Linked DNA regions of Homo sapiens. The main gene of each other region encodes a partner of the protein of the gene in region 2 in a complex. Each region holds a gene or a part of one and is shown on either strand. Other genes may lie near its edges. The genes, in order: RAB29 and LRRK2.

The links.
Region 1: the proteins of LRRK2 (region 2) and RAB29 are in contact, whole or in part, in a cryo-EM structure (PDB 8FO2), measured with the Homo sapiens proteins. Residues at the interface, in NP_940980.4 of Homo sapiens: Arg361, Lys362, Arg399, Met402, Leu403, Leu406, Met407, His408, Leu437, Ser438, Lys439, Gly440, His442, Leu443, Asn444, Glu447; in NP_001129134.1 of Homo sapiens: Leu7, Val42, Asp43, Phe44, Ala45, Leu46, Arg58, Gln60, Trp62, Leu76, Tyr77.

Annotation. Positions count from the first base shown.
Region 1 is NC_000001.11:205,771,938-205,780,697, forward strand, and holds the start of RAB29 (ras-related protein Rab-7L1), read right to left. Parts: upstream 3,546-8,760; 5' UTR 3,336-3,545; exon of another isoform or gene 3,150-3,335; 5' UTR 3,020-3,149; coding exon 2,896-3,019; intron 631-2,895; coding exon 559-630; intron 1-558. UniProt on the Homo sapiens protein: The small GTPases Rab are key regulators in vesicle trafficking. Essential for maintaining the integrity of the endosome-trans-Golgi network structure.
Region 2 is NC_000012.12:40,227,150-40,235,737, reverse strand, and holds part of LRRK2 (leucine-rich repeat serine/threonine-protein kinase 2), read right to left. Parts: intron 3,465-8,588; coding exon 3,355-3,464; intron 113-3,354; coding exon 24-112; intron 1-23. UniProt on the Homo sapiens protein: Serine/threonine-protein kinase which phosphorylates a broad range of proteins involved in multiple processes such as neuronal plasticity, innate immunity, autophagy, and vesicle trafficking.

The DNA.
Region 1 (8,760 bases), on a different chromosome or scaffold from region 2:
AGCAGTCGCTTTTTTTTTTTTTTTTTGAAACAGTTTCCTGCACTCCTGTTGCCCAGGCTGGAGTGCAGTGGTGCCATCTAGGCTCACTGCAACCTCCACCTCCCAGGTTCAAGCAATTCTCCAAAAGCAGTAGCTTTTATGATAGGGTTGATGTGAGGATTAATGAGTCAGTGAATTTAAAATACTTAGAAGAATGCTTGGCACATAGTAAGGATTCACTATTTTTACTGTATCTATTTTCTGGGGATCTTGTTTTTCACCAAGGTCAGCCTTAAACCTAGAAAAAGCACCCTCCCCTGCTGTGGGAGTGTCCACCTATAGTCTGGACAATCCACCACCTTGCCAGCCCCTCCATCCACATAGAGACTGCTCCAGATCTATTCAGGGCAAAACATCTACAAAAGCTCTGCACCTATTCAGCTCATGTGTCCTCAGAGCAGCTCAATCATTCCAGCTTCAGAAAAACAATTTCTGGCTTTGCTGCCCCATTTTTTCCTCAGAGCTTTCTAGTTAAATCAAAATTTCTTCCCTTGTTCCTATCTAGCCCTCCCACTTTACCTGCAATATCCCACAGCTGAAGCCGCACTATCTCGTAGTCAGACCACTGGAGAACCTTCAGAGCAAAATCCACTGAAAATATATGTACATTATACTTTAATAAAATTTCACTGTAAAAAATTAATAGGGATAAACTCAAATCAAATAGGCAGTGAAACCCTATGGACACACAACTCCAATCCCATATGTTTAACTTTAAGCCCTCAATTCACTGAGATGAGTCCACATGCGTGTATTTAGTGTGAGATGGATGATTCATACTCACTCTCCAAAGGGGTTTCCAGCTTTTACTCTACTGTCAAGCTCATTTATTTGCTACTGTTTGTCTCCAAGACTGGGGGTGGGAGTAACTATGAAAACAATTCTCATTCTCAGGTTAAATAGTTTCTGGGAGATTTAGGGGGTTTTCTCAGGGAAGGGGTGATGGGGGAGAAGGGGGAAATGAGACAAGTGTGGTTGCTTTCGTATCTTCCACATTCAATTTCACTGTTGGTTTCTAATCAAATTGTATTATGAAAAGAACACACCCTGGGGAACTCTACATCCACCATAAGGTTGCAGGTATTATCTTGGGCAAGAATGGAATAAATGGAAAAGGTCCCAGAGGAGTCCCAAGAAGAAGACACTGTGTGGATGTTGCTGAAGAGTCCTGCTGGAATCTACCACCAAGTCTGCAGGTGCTGAGACTCCTTAAGGCTGAGTAAGTATTCCATGGGGAAAGCCTTTTGGCTAAGGAGAGAAACAGAGTAATTTCTGAGGTTTGGAAATATTATCTTTCACATCTGTGACAGGAATCAAAGCTAAGGGAAATTTAGACTAAACACTGAAAAAAAAATTAGCCAATTATATTCTTTGCTAAAGGAAAACTACAGCAATTGTTAAAAATTAACTATTAATAGCAGGCCACTTTTAACCCAAATCCGTGAAATAGGGACCCTTATATTATTTAGGAGTGGGAGGGCAGAGCGGTCAGGATAGAGTGTCTGAAACTTTGAACCTTTAATTTTGCCAGACTTAAATTTTTTGTTCCTTTGTTTTTGAGACAGGGTCTCACTCTGTTGCCCAGGCTACAGTGCAGTGAGTGGTGCGAACGGGGCTCACTGAAGCCTCGACCTCCCCAGTTCAAGCAATCCTCTCGTCTCAGTTTCCCGAGTAGCTGGGACCACGGCTACTTTCTTCTTTAATTTTTGTAGAGGTGGGGGTCTTGCCATGTTTCCCATGGCTGGTCTCGAACTCCTGGGCTCAAGCAATCCTCCCGCCTCAGCCTCCTAAAGTGCTGGGATTGCAAGTATGAACCACGGTACTGGGCCCTACTGGGGGTTCTTAAGGAGAATGTTTTAATTGCAATGTAAATGTTTGTTAATTTCTTTTTAAACTTCCATATGAACAGGAGCACACATTTTCAATTTTTCCATTGGTACGAGTTTTCCCCCCTTGAAACAAGTTCTTTTAACAGAGAGAAATAAAATTTTAAGTTACTCTCCCCCATCACCAGCTCTTCCTAGCTAAATACCTTCTAATTAACAATAAGGCATTTCTGCCTCTGAAAAAATAGTTGAGTCCAAAGGCCACACCCGGGAAAGAAATGAATGAACTCGGTGTCCCCTTCCTCCCTACCTTCTCCAGTTTGAGGAAAAAAGTGGTGGGAAGATAGGTCAGAGAAGTGGTATATTTCACATTCTTGGAAGAATTCCTTGGTTACCTTTATTTAAGCAATCAACGGACAAAAACACAGCTCATCAGCCCTCATGGGCATCTGACTGCGTAGCCAAGGGGCTCGTTCGGGGATTTTGTGTCTTCCATCCCACCCACAGCCCCACAACAAAGCTACAGTCCTTCAGACCAGTTCCGCTTCCTGCGTTCTCCCACTGAAGCCAGGTTAAACACCTTGCGGTTCCTCCCTCAACAGAGGGGCAGGACTACAGCCCCAGCCGGCACCTAACCAGGAGGCCCCACAGAGGATCTCAGCTGCTTCTGCTGATTGGAGAGATTTGCCGGACAGCTGAAAGGCTGGAGACTTAAGTTCACAGTACGCCTGCAATAAACAGCAATTGCTCATCCTCATCCTCCCTTCCCTATTTCTCATCTTCACGCCTTTGCTCTTACCTTTCTCCTGGCAGTGGGCTCAGTTTGGGAAAATCTAACGGGAAACTCAAGAGAGGCGTGTAAACCAAACACCCGGCAATTACACCATCTAGGTTCCCAGACAGTACTTCCTGACCCGAAGAAGGACCCAACAACCGACAGCAAATCCCCACCCCACTTGGGTCCCCAGCTCGAGTCCGCGGTCGGGGCCTCCTCCTCCCCCTCCCCCTCCCCACCCCCGAGACGTCTCACCTCCCACCGTGGACTTGTAGTGTTTGCTGAAGCTGTCCTGGGAATATCGCTGCACCAGCGACGTCTTGCCCACTGCGGCGTCCCCCACCACCAGCACTTTGAACAGGTGGTCGCGGCTGCCCATGGCTAGCGGGGTGTGCGTTTTAGGGAGGCGGGAAGTGTGGTCGGGGATCGGGGGTCGCTCGTTTTAACCCCTTTGGATCCGGACCCTCTTCAAACTGAAGTGAGGCATTCCCACCCACCGCCTGTCTGGGCTGCTCTGACGAGAAAGCAAAAAAGGAAACTTTGCACTCAACCTATACGCGCTTCCTCCCCGGGCGGCCGCAACCTGGGTGGGGCGCAGGGCGCGAGCTCCGAGCCCCCGGCTGTTCGCACCTTCCCCACCCCCTCCTGGCCTGACTGCCGAGAAACTGGACCAGGCGCCGCGGAACCTCACCCACCGGGACTTCCCCCGAGCGGCTCCAAGTCAGTGACTGAATCCCAGTCAGCTCCTTACACCACTGGGGCCAGATGATGGGGACCCTCCCCTTGCAGCACAAACCAAATTGTGAGGAAGGAGCAGCCGGCACCTCGATTCCCTAGACGCCCTCCCGCGCGCCTCTCTCTCCCCTTCCTCCGCAAGCGTCACGTGCAGGGTTGCCTGTGGCACTACATTTCCCAGCTTTCCTCGCGGTAAAGAGAACCAGCCGAGTGCGGAGGCTCACCGCGAAGCCTCCTGGGAAATGTAGTATATTCGTTATTTTGTTTTAAGCAAACCTACACCAAGTTTCAAGGCTTCAAACTCCCTCGACAGTTTGGAATCTTATTTTGAAACAATTCTAGGTCAGTAAAGATCCCTTAAGGGGAGATTTGTGCAACGTGATCTCACTGGCCTGAATCCATCCCCAGATAGTTTTCTCCTGTCTTTAAAGGTTTAACTGAGTTAAGATTGAAACTTATTTCATTAGTAAAAGCCCAAGCCTCATCCATCATGCTCCAAGTGAAGTCCATTTCCTATTCCTTCAAGTAGATAGACAAGCCCAGGACTTTGTGAAATGACTCATATTTTCTGTGTGAACTTGCCCAATACCAGGCAAGTTCAGGAAAACTTGACCCAAGAGACCAGTCTTTGGAAAAAAACCTATGCCAAAAATTACAGCATTTAATATCCAGCAATAACAATAAAGATGGACAGAAAACAAGAGACAGTTCTCCATTCATACTTCTACAATGCCTATTCTAGCCATACTACTCATGTATCACTTGAGCTAGAAGCTAATTGAAATACACTGGGACTCCTTCTTGATTTGTTGTGGCTGTTGTTAATAGATAATCATAAAACTAGTGTTTGGCAAATAATTTTAATTTCTCAGCCTGTAACTTTACTGACCTACCTGTCACTTGGGTAGAAGTTGGCAGGACATGAGCTCAATGGCAAGCAAAGAGAGCTCCATTTTCTATACTTTTCTAGGAATAGAGGAAGAGAACCAGCGGGGCCATGGGAAAACAGCCCAGGACCAGACACTAGGAAATCTAGGTCTCTTGATAGAGAGGCTATCACTTATGTTTTGTGGCGAAAGAACATCAGCATGGTTCACAATATATTTTGCCCAGAATGTTCGTTACCCAGGTACAGGAGGTTAGTTCAAGCTACTCATCTTTAAGGATCCAGTTTTCTCTGTTCTTATTCGTTTTGACATAGTTGACCACTCCTTGACATTTGTTTCCCTTATGCCTTCTATGACGCTGTTCTTTCTTTGTCATCCCCGTACTTCTCTGATGATTATCTTTTTCTTTCAGGTTTCTCTCCATCCCATTTCCCGCTAAGTATTTCCTAAGGCCTGATTCTTGGTCTCTGAGTCAATCATTCGATAAACTCTTTAGTGAATTGTCCTTGGTGTCAAAGATCTATCTTCACTTTATTTGTTCTTTATCTCTGATCAGTGATATTCTGTCAAGACCAGCTCTGTTGGGGAGACCCTAACCCAGTGGCGCTAGAGGAATTAAAGACACACACACAGAAATATAGAGGTGTGAAGTGGGAAATCAGGGGTCTGATTTCCTTTAGAGCTTTTAGAGCTGAGAGCCCCGAACAGAGATTTACCCACGTATTTATTAACAGCAAACCAGTCATTAGCATTGTTTCTATAGATATTAAATTAACTAAAAGTATCCCTTATGGGAAACGAAGGGATGGGCCGAATTAAAGGAATAGGTTGGGCTAGTTAACTGCAGCAGGAGCATGTCCTTAAGGCACAGATCACTCATGCTATTGTTTGTGGCTTAAGAATGCCTTTAAGCGGTTTTCCACCCTGGGCGGGCCAGGTGTTCCTTGCCCTCGTTCCTGTAAACTTACAACCTTCCAGCGTGGACGTTAGGGCCATTATGAACATGTTACAGTGCTGCAGAGATTTTGTTTATGGCCAGTTTTGGGGCCAGTTTATGGCCAGATTTTGGGGGGCCTGCTCTCAACATGTCCCTCTTCTCTGATTTGCAAATTGATAAATGCAAAGGCAGCTTTGTCACGGTGAGCTACTTCTCGCAGGAGTCAGGATACACATCTGCAGACTATACAAAGACAAACAACACAGATTAAAAGCACAATCATCATTGAAATCACAGAGCTTCCAAGTGTTTTTATCCATTTTCGGCTCCTTTAAGCACTCCAGTTCCTGGCATTAAGGTCAAGTGTGCCTCGGATGCTTTAAATATTTCTTCTTTTAATTTTAAATCCTTATGTTAAGCTCCTAGAGCGGGCCATATCATTTGAGGTTGAGGTGTCACTATACTGCCATGGTTCCAGATAATAGGAACTCTTGCTGTACTTCTTATTATATCTACCATCTGACCATTTTGTTCAGACCAGCTGAACATAGTGTGGCCGTGGCACGCAGACTGAGAGGTGCAATTCAAGCTAAACATCCCCTTAGGGGACCAATTAATAATGATTCCATAGGAATCATTGTGCAGCATCTCTGCCTGTTCTGCAATGCAATCTTCCTAAACAAGTACGTTCATTTTTTCTAACTGGGTCCAATCCTGTTTACAAATAAGTTTTTGAGGGCGGTATGCCTCAATTATAGGAGCAGATTTATTATGGTAAATACTGAGATCAGAAAGCATGTGTAACTGCGTCATAAAGTGATTGCATCCAGGCATTATTGCCAGCCAAGATTGATAAATATACCCAATAAGTATAATTGTTCTCTGTGTCAGCCCTTAATGAAGGAATACTCACGGCACTGGTGATAACCGCTATCATAGCTACCATTAACACTTTATTTGTTCTTTATCTCTGATCAGTGATATTCAGCTGCCCAAAAGGTGCCCCCACTTGGATGTCCTGCCACATCCTTCCTCTTACTACATTGCCATAAAAATAGCTCCTTTTCTCAGCTTCCCTATTTCTGTCACTGGTCTCATCATTTCTTGCCTCCATGTAGACTTCAGATTCTGAGCATTATTATTTCCTTTACACATGTCCCTTTATACCTATTTATTTGTTTGTTTGTTTATTGAGATGGAGTCTCACTCTGTTGTCCAGGCTGGAGTGCATTGGCATGATCTTGGCTCAGTGCATCCTCTGCTTCCTGGGCTCAAGTAACTCTTGTGCCTCAGCCTCCTGCGTAGCTGGGACTACAGGCGCATACCACCAAGCCTGGCTAATTTTTGTATTTTTTTTGTAGAGACAGGGTTTTACCATGTTGGCCAGGCTGGTCTTGAACTCCTGACCTCAAGTGATCTACCCGCCTCAGCCTCCCAAAGTGCTGGGATTACAGGCGTGAGCCGCCGCACCTGGTCTATACCCTTTTAAAAAAAATTCAGTTACCATGTCTGATTGATTGTTTCTTCAGTAAATGGTTTCTCCCACTCATCCTCTCTGCTTCATATTCAGTAATACTTTCCTTTTTTTTTTTTCTCCAACTTTTATTTTAGGTTCAAGGGGTACATGTGCAGGTTTGTTACACGAGTAAACTGCATGTTGCGCGAGTTTGGCTTACAGATAATTTTGTCACCCAGGTAATCAGCAAGTAACACTTTCCTAGTTCAGGCTTTCACCATCTCACACCTGGATTCCTGCAGTAACCTGTTTATTGGTCTCCCTGAATTTATTTTCTTTTTAACTCACCGTCTACAACTGGACAGGATGGTTTTCCTAAAACACCATTGTTTGTTCTTCCTTGTCTACCAACTGTCTTTCAAAAAAAAAGGCCAACCTCCCTGAAGCTGGTGTCCAAAGCTTTCTATGCACCTGCCCCGGCCTACCTAACCAATTTTATCTCACCCGACTTCAAATGGGAGTTTCCTTCTTCCAACAAGGTGAGGTTCCTTATGCTCTTTTAAAGCCCAATGTCATTTTTGATTTTCTGTTTTTGTCCAGGATGCATCACCTTTCAGAATACTCTTCAGGTTTCTTTCTACACATCTAAATCTTACTTAAATATTATTAAGAAAATCAAAAGGAAGAGAAACTATATTATTCACTAAGTGGGAGTGGATTGTCTTAAAGGTCACCGAAGGTTCTAAAATTTTAGTGTGCATAAGCATCACCTACCTGGGGTACTTGTTAAATACCCACATTTTGATTCTGTAGGGCTAGGGGGTGACCCAGGTTAATCTGCATTTTTGACAAGTACTCATGTGATTGCTACACCACATTCCACTTTGAGAAATAGTACTTTTGAGAAATGGTGCTTCAAGGCCTGACTTAAATATCTACTTATTTATAAACATTTCCCTTATTATTGCAGCCTTTATTGGTCACCTGTAGCATTTATTTTTTTATTTTAATTTTTTAATTTTTTTTTTTTTTTTGAGACAGAGTCTCGCTCTGTCACCCAGGCTGGAGTGCAGTGGTGCGATCTGGGCTCACTGCAAGCTCCGCCTCCCGGGTTCACGCCATTCTCCTGCCTCAGCCTCCCGAGTAGCTGGGACTACAGGCGCCCGCCACCACGCCCGGCTAATTTTTTTTTTTTGTATTTTTTAGTAGAGACAGGGTTTCACTGTGTTAGCCAGGATGGTCTTGATCTCCTGACCTTGTGATCCACCCGCCTCGGCCTCCCAAAGTGCTGGGATTACAGGCGTGAGCCACCACGCCCGGCCTATCCTTTTTTTTGTTTTTGAGAGGGAGTCGCTCTCTGGTCACCCAGGCTGGAGTGCAATGGTGCTATCTTGGTTCACTGCAACCTCCGCCTCCCGGGTTCAAGTGATTCTCCTGCCTCAACCTCCCAAGTAGCTGAGATTACAGGCACGTGCCACTATGCCTTGCTAAGTTCTGTATTTTTAGTAGAGACAAGGTTTCACCGTATTGGCCAGGCTGGTCTCGAACTCCTGATCTTGTCATCTGCCTGCCTTGGCCTCCCAAAGTGCTGGGATTATAAGTGTGAGCCACTGTACCTGGCCTGTAGCATTTATATTCTATTTGCACTTTGGTCACTTAACTATGTGACCAATTTGTAACTATTTAACTTATATAAGCAACCAGCGTGTCTCGAAGAAAACAGGAAGAAGTAAATTTTTCCTTCAAAATTTTGACTTTGCTCCTGATCATCTGTGAAAGGAACTACTCTTAGCTTCCAAAATCGGAAAGGTCGGGAGTTAAGATTTAAGAGGGAAGATTAGCAAATTTCTGGTACTCCCTGAAAGACACAGTTCTCAAAGTAGTAATCATTTCTTTGATGGGGATGAGAAGTGTTTTTCTTTCTCTCTTCTCTTTTTTTTTCTTTTTTCTTTTCGTTTCTTTTCTCTTTTCTTTTCCTTCTTTTCTTTCTTTCTTCTCTTTCTTTCTCTCTCTCTCTCTCTTTCTTTTTCTTTCTTTCTTTCTCTCTTTCTCTCTTTCTTTTTTTGAGACACAGTCTCGCTTTGCTGCCCAGGCTGGAGTGCAGT
Region 2 (8,588 bases):
CAAAAAACATATACACATATTACCTGAAGTTAGGAGGAGATCTAAGGTCTTCAGTCCAATCACTGACAAGTTTACACTGGCATTATGAACTGTTAGCATTTTAAGAATCAATCTGGAGTTAAAAACAGAAATCAAGATAAGAATGAAATATCATACTCAAAAGTTTGCTTATTTGCATTTTTTTTGCTCACCTATTTTTTATTACTCTCATTGTATTTAATTCCCTGTAGTGAAGCTCATGTGTTTTTGTTGCCTGCTTTTAGAGACAGGGTCTTGCTGTGTCACCCAGGCTGGAATGCAATGGTGCAATCATAGCTCACTGAAACCTCAAACTCCTGGGCTCAAGTGAGCAATCCTCCTGCCTCAGCCTCCTGAGTTGCTAGGGATACAGGTACATGCCACCACACCAGGCTAATTTTTTCATTCTTTTTTGGAGAGACAGGGTTTGCTATTTTGCCTAGGCTGGTCTAAACTTCTGGGTTCAAGTGATCCTCCTGCCTTGGCCTCCCAAAGTCTGGGATTATAGGTGTGAGCCACCGTGCCTGGCCATGTGTGTTTGTTTCTTTCTACAAACCTGAACCAGGCTTATAAAAACTAACAGGGAATGTTAATTAGCTTGATTGTGGTGAATAATTCACAATGTACACATGTCAAATCATCAATTGTATACCTTAAATATAAACAATTTTTAATTGTCAACTATACTTTAATAAAGTTAAAAAAATAAAAAAAAATCAACAGGGGACTATTATGTGTCTCATTTAAAAAGTTAAAAGCACTACTTATTTTCCAATAAATATTCAAATTCAAATATTCAGATTCACTATTTTCACCCAACTCCATATTCAAAATATCATGAAGCCTTATATACATCGAGAGCAAACCCATTTTTATATATGATGTAAATTTATAAATTATCTTAGACATGTTGATATATTAAAATATAGAGATATAATAAAGATGTTAGTTTGTGTATATAAATTAAGAATTCATTTGAATATTTAAATTATTGATTGCTACTGTTTTTAAAAGAGAAATTAATGATATATTAAAAAGTAGTGGGCCGGTGGCCGTTGCTCACGCCTGTAATCTCAGCACTTTGGGACGCCGAGGCGGGGGGATCATGAGGTCAATAGATCAAGACCATCCTGGCCAACATGATGAAACCCTGTCTCTACTAAAAATACAAAAATTAGCTGGGCGTGGTGGCGTACTCCTGCAGTCCCAGCTACTCGAGAGGCTGAGGCAGGAGAATCACTTGAACCCGGGACACAGAGGTTACAGTGAGCCGAGATCACGCCACTGCACGCCAGCCTGGCAACAGAGAAAGACTCTGTCTAAAAAAAAAAAAAAAAAAAAAAAAAAAAAGTGAATTTAGCATATCAATAATGTTTAGTTAGTTCAAGATAAGATTTTAATCCCTATGTTATTAATCCCAAAATATAATCTCTAGTCTATTCCTGCAAAGCATTGTTTGGCTTTACATTATTGGAAGAAGACTGAGCTGGCCACATCTAGAGTTTTGTATGTATTCAAGAAACGTTGCATAATCTCCATTTGGCAATTGGAGGACCTGAATGAAGCCAGTCTTCGATTCTCTGCCAGCCTTCCTCCTAATCACCCTGCCCCTACCTCTCCCTATACCATTCCCACAATTCCTGACTTTATTACCACGGAAGAAATTTTTCTTCAGTACTGGTAAGTCTTTGGAGGGAAAAGGCCTTGAAAAAAGAGAAATCTGTTTTACAATCAATTTTTGCTGGGAGTGATCTAATACACTCCACTGGAGACAGCAGTGTGTCTATCTTCTTCACAACTGCATGGTTTCTGACCCAGAGGACAGGCTTCAAAAACATTCAATGAATAGAAGATGAATGACTGGATGAACAAAGTGAGTGAATGAGTAAGTGAGTGAGTGAATGAAATTTCCTACATAAACTTTTATGTAATTTAATTTGAACAGTTGGTTTGTACAGGAATATGACTAGATGAGTTTCCCAAACACTCCCTGAGGTTATAGACTGGCTCATCTTTGGACTTCCTGGAAATTATCACCCAAACCAAGGGACATTTAAAGTTACAATTCCTAATTACTGGTATATTTTGAGTAATTCCTCATCAAATGCTGTATACTTTAGAACTGATACATAGAATTACAGAGATTAGATTGAAGACGAGAACTCCAATTAATTGTAAATATGCTCTTTCCAAAACACACCCTTTATGTACTGAAAACAAGAAGAGCAACACATTTGTCAAAGAGGGGAAAATGTATAAGCACAGACATGTTCACTTATGGACAAACACATAGCTCTAATTTGTCTAAATTTATAGCACTACTTGACACTGATCAGCAATACAAACACCTGAAAATTTTTCATAAATTAAATTTTCATAAACCATATACCATTGGAAGCCAAAAAATATTCACAATTTCCTTTTCTGTGATAAAGAAAAGTCATATTAGGTATAAAAAAGATTTAAAGTTAATGACAAAAGGTTTGTTTGTTTGTTTGTTTTTGAGACAGAGTGTCGCTCTGTCACCCAGGCTGGAGTGCAGTGGTGCAATCTCGGCTCACTGCAACCTCCGCTCACTGCAACCTCCGCCTCCCAGGTTCAAGTGATTCTCCTTCCTCAGCCTCCTCAGTAGCTTAGAAGATATTTTTTAACTGTCAAGAAACAAAGCTATCCAAAATGTATTTTCCTGGAAACACATTCTTCTTGAGAAAATATTTTCTTAATTAATGATGGCTAAGGAAGTAGTCTCATCTAAGAAGCCATTATGCTGCAAACTGCAAAAACATAGCTGGTAAAATTACTATCAAGATTTGGCTACAGATGTGCTGAAAGTTAATTTCCTCTTTCTTAACTCTTTCTGAAAGCCATAGTTTAAACTTACTGTATATATAGGAATATATATATAAATGTACTATTTAAAGACAGTAGAACATCAACTTTCAAATTACTACTTACAGAACTAACTTTTCTCAGTTCCCATTTTTTTAAGAACTAGTGGTTTGTATCGATTCTATTATTAAAAGCCAAAATCTCTTCATGGTTTGAATTCAAAAGTACTCATCAAAAATCTACAACTTAACCAGTTTTATAATTATATGATTATATTATTAAAATAATAACTTCTGACATGTTACCTTAAATGTTTGCTTTCTAAATCAAACTTCTGAGTTTAAAGCTCTCTATAAATGTAAATCATTGACTCAAGGAAAAATATCTGTATTTTAAAGAATTCCACAGGAGTAGCCTTGGATTGCAAACACAGTGTATCAAGGGAAGGTTGTCATGTGTACAAATAAATACTCAAGGCCATTTGTTTTACATATCTATCATACTTACTGGTGAACACCAAGGACTTCCCAATCATTTCCAACATCCTGGGGTCCCATTAAGCTTTGCATTGTACCTGGACAGACTTCTATTAATTTGCACAGAAGTGACCAACCCACCTGAAAACAAGAAAGACATATATTCACATGTTTTAAAGAATGTTAATAGAGCATACTCAGTCAAACATGAATCTCTTCAATCTTAGTGGAATAGATGCTTATCTCACTTGTAAACAATGGTTATACAACAAAATGATACCCTAAAATGCTTACCCAGAAACAAAAGCAAGCCGTATTCTTAGGATACACCTTTCTCCAAAAATCATACCAGAAAGACATACAAAAAATACAACATTTCAGCCGGCAGTTTGAGACCAATGTGGCCAAGATGGTGAAACCCAGTCTCTACTAAAAATACAAAAATTAGCCAGGCATGGTGATGGGCGCCTGTAATCTCAGCTACTCGGGAGGCTGAGGAAGGAGAATCGCTTGAACCCAGGAGGCAGAGGGTGCAGTGAGCCAAGATTGTGCCACTGCACTCTAGCCTGGATGACAGAGCAAGAATCCATTTCAAATATATATATATTATATATATATATAATTTAATTTATACATAATATATAATATATATAATTTATATATATAAATACATATAATTTCTAAATTATGAAGAACATAGACATGCCAATTGTCTAAATAAGGCAAAATAAAATAAACTATAAAAAATAGTTTTAGAGGTTGTACCAAGATTATTAAGTGCAAGAATGGCTATACCAGATCCTTAGTACTTTTTTTTTCTTGTTTTTTTTTTTTTTTTGGTTTTGTTTTTGTTTTTGAGATAGGGTCTCACTCTGTCACCCAGGCTGGAGTGCAATGGTGCAATCATAGATCACTGCAGCCTAGAACTCCTGTCCTTAGGTGATCCACCCACTTCAGCCTCCCAAGTAGCTGGGACTACAGGTATGTGCCACCACACCCAGCTAATTTTTTTTTTTTTTTTTTTGTGAAGACAGGGGTCTCGCTCTGTTGCCCAGGCTGGTCTCAAGCTCCTGGGCTCAAGCAATCCTCCTGACTTGGCCTCTCAAAGTGCTGGGATTACAGGCGTGAGCCTCTGCACCTGGCCCTTAGTAGGTTTTAAGTCATATCTACCTGACAGAATTTCCTCCACATATTTAAAATTTTAATTATAGGAAAAAATGAAGTGGCTTATAATGAAGGATTAGGTGAAGTTGGAGATTTTAGTAGCAAAATGTAAGTTATCAGAATGGCTGCTCCCCAAGTAATGAAGCTAGAATAATAGAGGCAAGAAACGTGGCATTTTTAGCAATTGAATCTACATCTGATAGGAGAAAAAGAGAAAGAGCTCTATAAAATAGACAGGAGGTAGAACTCCTCAATGGCTCCCTCCAGATTTCTCTAGAATGAATTGATAAGGTCTAGAGATCACAGACACCCCTAGTAGGCTCTTTCACATTTCGAAATAAAATATGAAATTATAGATGCATTTTAAGTATATCTTCACTCAGTCTGTTTACAAGATGCCAACTTGACTAAGTTGCTCTTTACCTCTGAAAAAAAAATTGAAAGTCCTGATTTCAAACCGGAGATGAAAATTAACCTATTCTTCCTACTGTAGACTCCTCCCTCTCTAAATGTAAAGGATCTCCAATTCATTCTATTATACTATAGAACTATACTTGACATGGTCAAAAAAAAAAAAAAAAAGAGAAAGTGCATATATGTACCCTCTAGAGACTAATGGAAAAGTATCTAAGTGTGATGTGTAATAAATACCAATATAATAGAAATACTGAAAGTAAGACTCAGTGTGAGTTGAAATTACTCAGAGAAGAATATAATATGAAGAGGTAGAGCTTAAGCCAGATTGTATAAGAACGGATGAGCGGTGAGGAGAGTAGGCTGCTACATGATAAGGAAGCTGCTACAGGGAAGAGGCTATTTTGGGATAAGGCTGGATGCATAAGTAAAGTTGAATATTGCAAGGAGTTGAATGACAAGGTGAGAAATCTATATGCACCCAATAAGGAATAATGGCACAAGTTTCTTACTCGCTTACGGGAGTAAACAACGGCTATTTTAGGAAGATAAAAATGATTACTCAAGATCTCTTTACAATATTACTTTTGGATCTTTTCCAGATTAAACATAAATTGCTTTATTTTGTCATTACTTCCTTTTACATAATTTCAAATTGCTTTCAAAGGCGGCAATTTCTGATAGCTATTTCTACCTATACTACTCAAGTAGGACATCCTCCTCCACGTAAGCTGAACAGACGTTGACAATCCAGCTGTCATAGAAACTGACTATTTTTGTGCTTTCATAGAATACATCAAGACTTTTTTCCGAACTATTTAAGAAAATAACATTCTGAACAGCTTCTGGTGGTAAAAAAAAAAAAAAAAAAAAAAAAAAAAGTCACATAGGATGCCAAACTCATCTCTGTACCTACAAAGCTGACTCAAGGAAAAAACCTGTTTGTTTTGGTTGGTGAAGCAACAGTATCAGTAAACGCTTTGCAAAAAGATTCAGGCAACTGAGCTCTCCAGCACTACATGGAACTTCTGTGATTAAATAGAATCTCTGGCAGCAAAGCAGAGGTAACAATTGATCCATTAATCTATTCAATTAAAAGCTTATCTCTCTAAGAGAGAAGGTTCCCATCTTGCACAGTTACAATACAATTAAATTGGTAGTTTTACTTTATTATAATTATTCTAAAAACTCAAGCATGTAATTAATGCACAACAGGAAAGAGTCTAGGGGTTAAAGAAAAAATTTTAGCCACTTTCATTTATTTTGCTCCCCTTCTTCAAAGGTTGAACCCTTGAGAATAAAGAGATGTAAAATTTAGGAGCACAGTGAAAAGATAGGCAGGAAAAGAAAAATATAAAGCACCTAGCTTAACCGTCAATTTTCTAAAGACTGTCATTTATGAAGAAACATTAATAAAATATGAAACAAACTTTGAAAATAAAACTGGCAGTCTGGAATATCATGTTAAATGGCATCTAGAAACAAACCTTAATCTTTATTTTAAATAGTAATTAAGAATTACTATTAAATTAAATGAAGGAGAAATTTACCTTAATACCTTAAATTTATCATTAAGAGTTTTTCTTTTGGCACTTCCAGCTAATTCAACATATAAAGCAGTAAAGGATACTTACAGTAATTATACTAATAATATAAAGAAATCTGAAGGAAAAATACTACTTTTAAGTGAGTATTAAAATGTCAGTAGGAGACCCCTTTCTACATCCCCTTGTTAAGACCAATGATAATTTAAATTGATGTCATTGTACCTAGCATGGCCACAGTATTTGTATCAAACCATTTTGCTTTTTACTAGCTTGCACAAAAAGCTTGCGAATTCAGCAGCTAGTAGATTGTATGATGGAAAGAGATTTTGAAGGTGTGAGAAGACTTGAGTCTTAGGTCTGTCACAAGCTCTTTGATCCTCAGTGAGCAGCTTACTCTCACTTCGCTATGACAGTAAAACATCCGGTAATATTTCCAGGAGGGCAGTGAGATTTCAGTGAGAATCAAATATTGGCTGTGCAAAAGAAGGAAACTAGATCCACAGCTTTCACCATATACACAAATCATTTCAAAATGGATTAAAGACTTACATCTCAGACCTGAAAATATGCAACTACTAGAAGAAAACACTGGGGAAATGCTACAGGACATTGGTCTGTGCAATGATTTTTGGGGTAGGACCTCAAAAGCACAGGCAATTACAACAAAAATAGGCAAATGGGATTATATCAAGCTAAAAAGCTTCTGCACAACAAAGAAAATAATTAACAAAGTGAAGAGACAACATAAAGAAAGGGAGAAAATATTTGCAAAATATCCATTCAACAAAAGATTAACAACCAGAATACATAAGGAACTAAAAAAACTCAATTAGCAAAAAAAAAAAAAAAAAAAAAAGTCTTATTTTTAAATGGACAAAAGATCCAAATAGACATTTCTCAAAAGAAGACAGACAAATGGCTAACAGGTACATGAAAAAAAAATCCTAAACTTCACTAATCATTAGGGAGAGGCAAATCAAAACCATAATGAGATATTATCTCACCACAGGCAGAATGGCTATTATCAAAAAGACAAAAAATAACAAATGCTGGTAAGGATGCAGAAAAAGGGGAATGGTGGTACACTGCTGATGGGAATATAAAGTAGCACAGCCATGATGAAACACAGTATGGAGGTATCTTAAAAAACTAAAAAGAGAATTTTCATATGATCCAGTAATCTCATCGCTGGGTATATATCCAAAAAAAGAACATCAGTATATCAAAGATATATCTGAACTCCCATGTTTATTGCAGCCCTGTTCACAATAGTTAAAATACAGAATCACCTTATATGTCTATCAACAGATTAACAAAGAAAATATGGAGGCCGAGGCAGGAGGATTACTTGAGGTCAGGAGTTTGAAACTAACCTGGGCAACATAGCAAGACTCCATCTCTACAAAAAGTAAAAAAAGAAAAAAAAATTAGCTGAGCATGGTGGCACATGCTTATAGTCCTAGCTACCTGGGAGGCTGAGGCAGGAGGACTACTTCAGCCCAGGATTGCAGGCCTGCAGTGAGCTTTGATCACACCACTGCTCTCCAGTCTGGGCAACAGAGTGAGACCCTGTCTCTAAATTAATTACTTAACTAAAAATAAAAGAAAATGTGGTATACATACACAATGGAATATTATTCAGTCATAAAAAATGAAATCCTGTCATTTGCAACAGCATGGGTGGGACTGGAGGTCATTAGGTTAAATTAAATAAGCCAGGTACAGAAATAAAATATTGCATAATCTCACTCATATGTAGGAGCGGAAAAGGTGGATCTCATGGAGGAAGAGAGTAGAATGGTGGTTACCAGAGACTGGAAATGAAAGGATGGGGAGGGATAAAGAGAAGGTGGTTAATGTGTACAAAAATATAATTAGATACAAGCAATTAAGTTAATATTTAATAGTATAGCAGGGAAATTATGGTTAATAATTCATTGCATATTTTAAAATAGCTAGAAGAAAGAAATTGCAACGTTGCCAACACAAAGAAAAATGTTCGAGGTGACGGATATTCCAGTTACCCTGATTTGAACATTACACATTGTATACATGTATCAAATAGCATATGTATCCCCAAAATATATACAACTATGATATATCCAAAAAAGTAATTAATTACTTTTAAAAAAACTCTTCC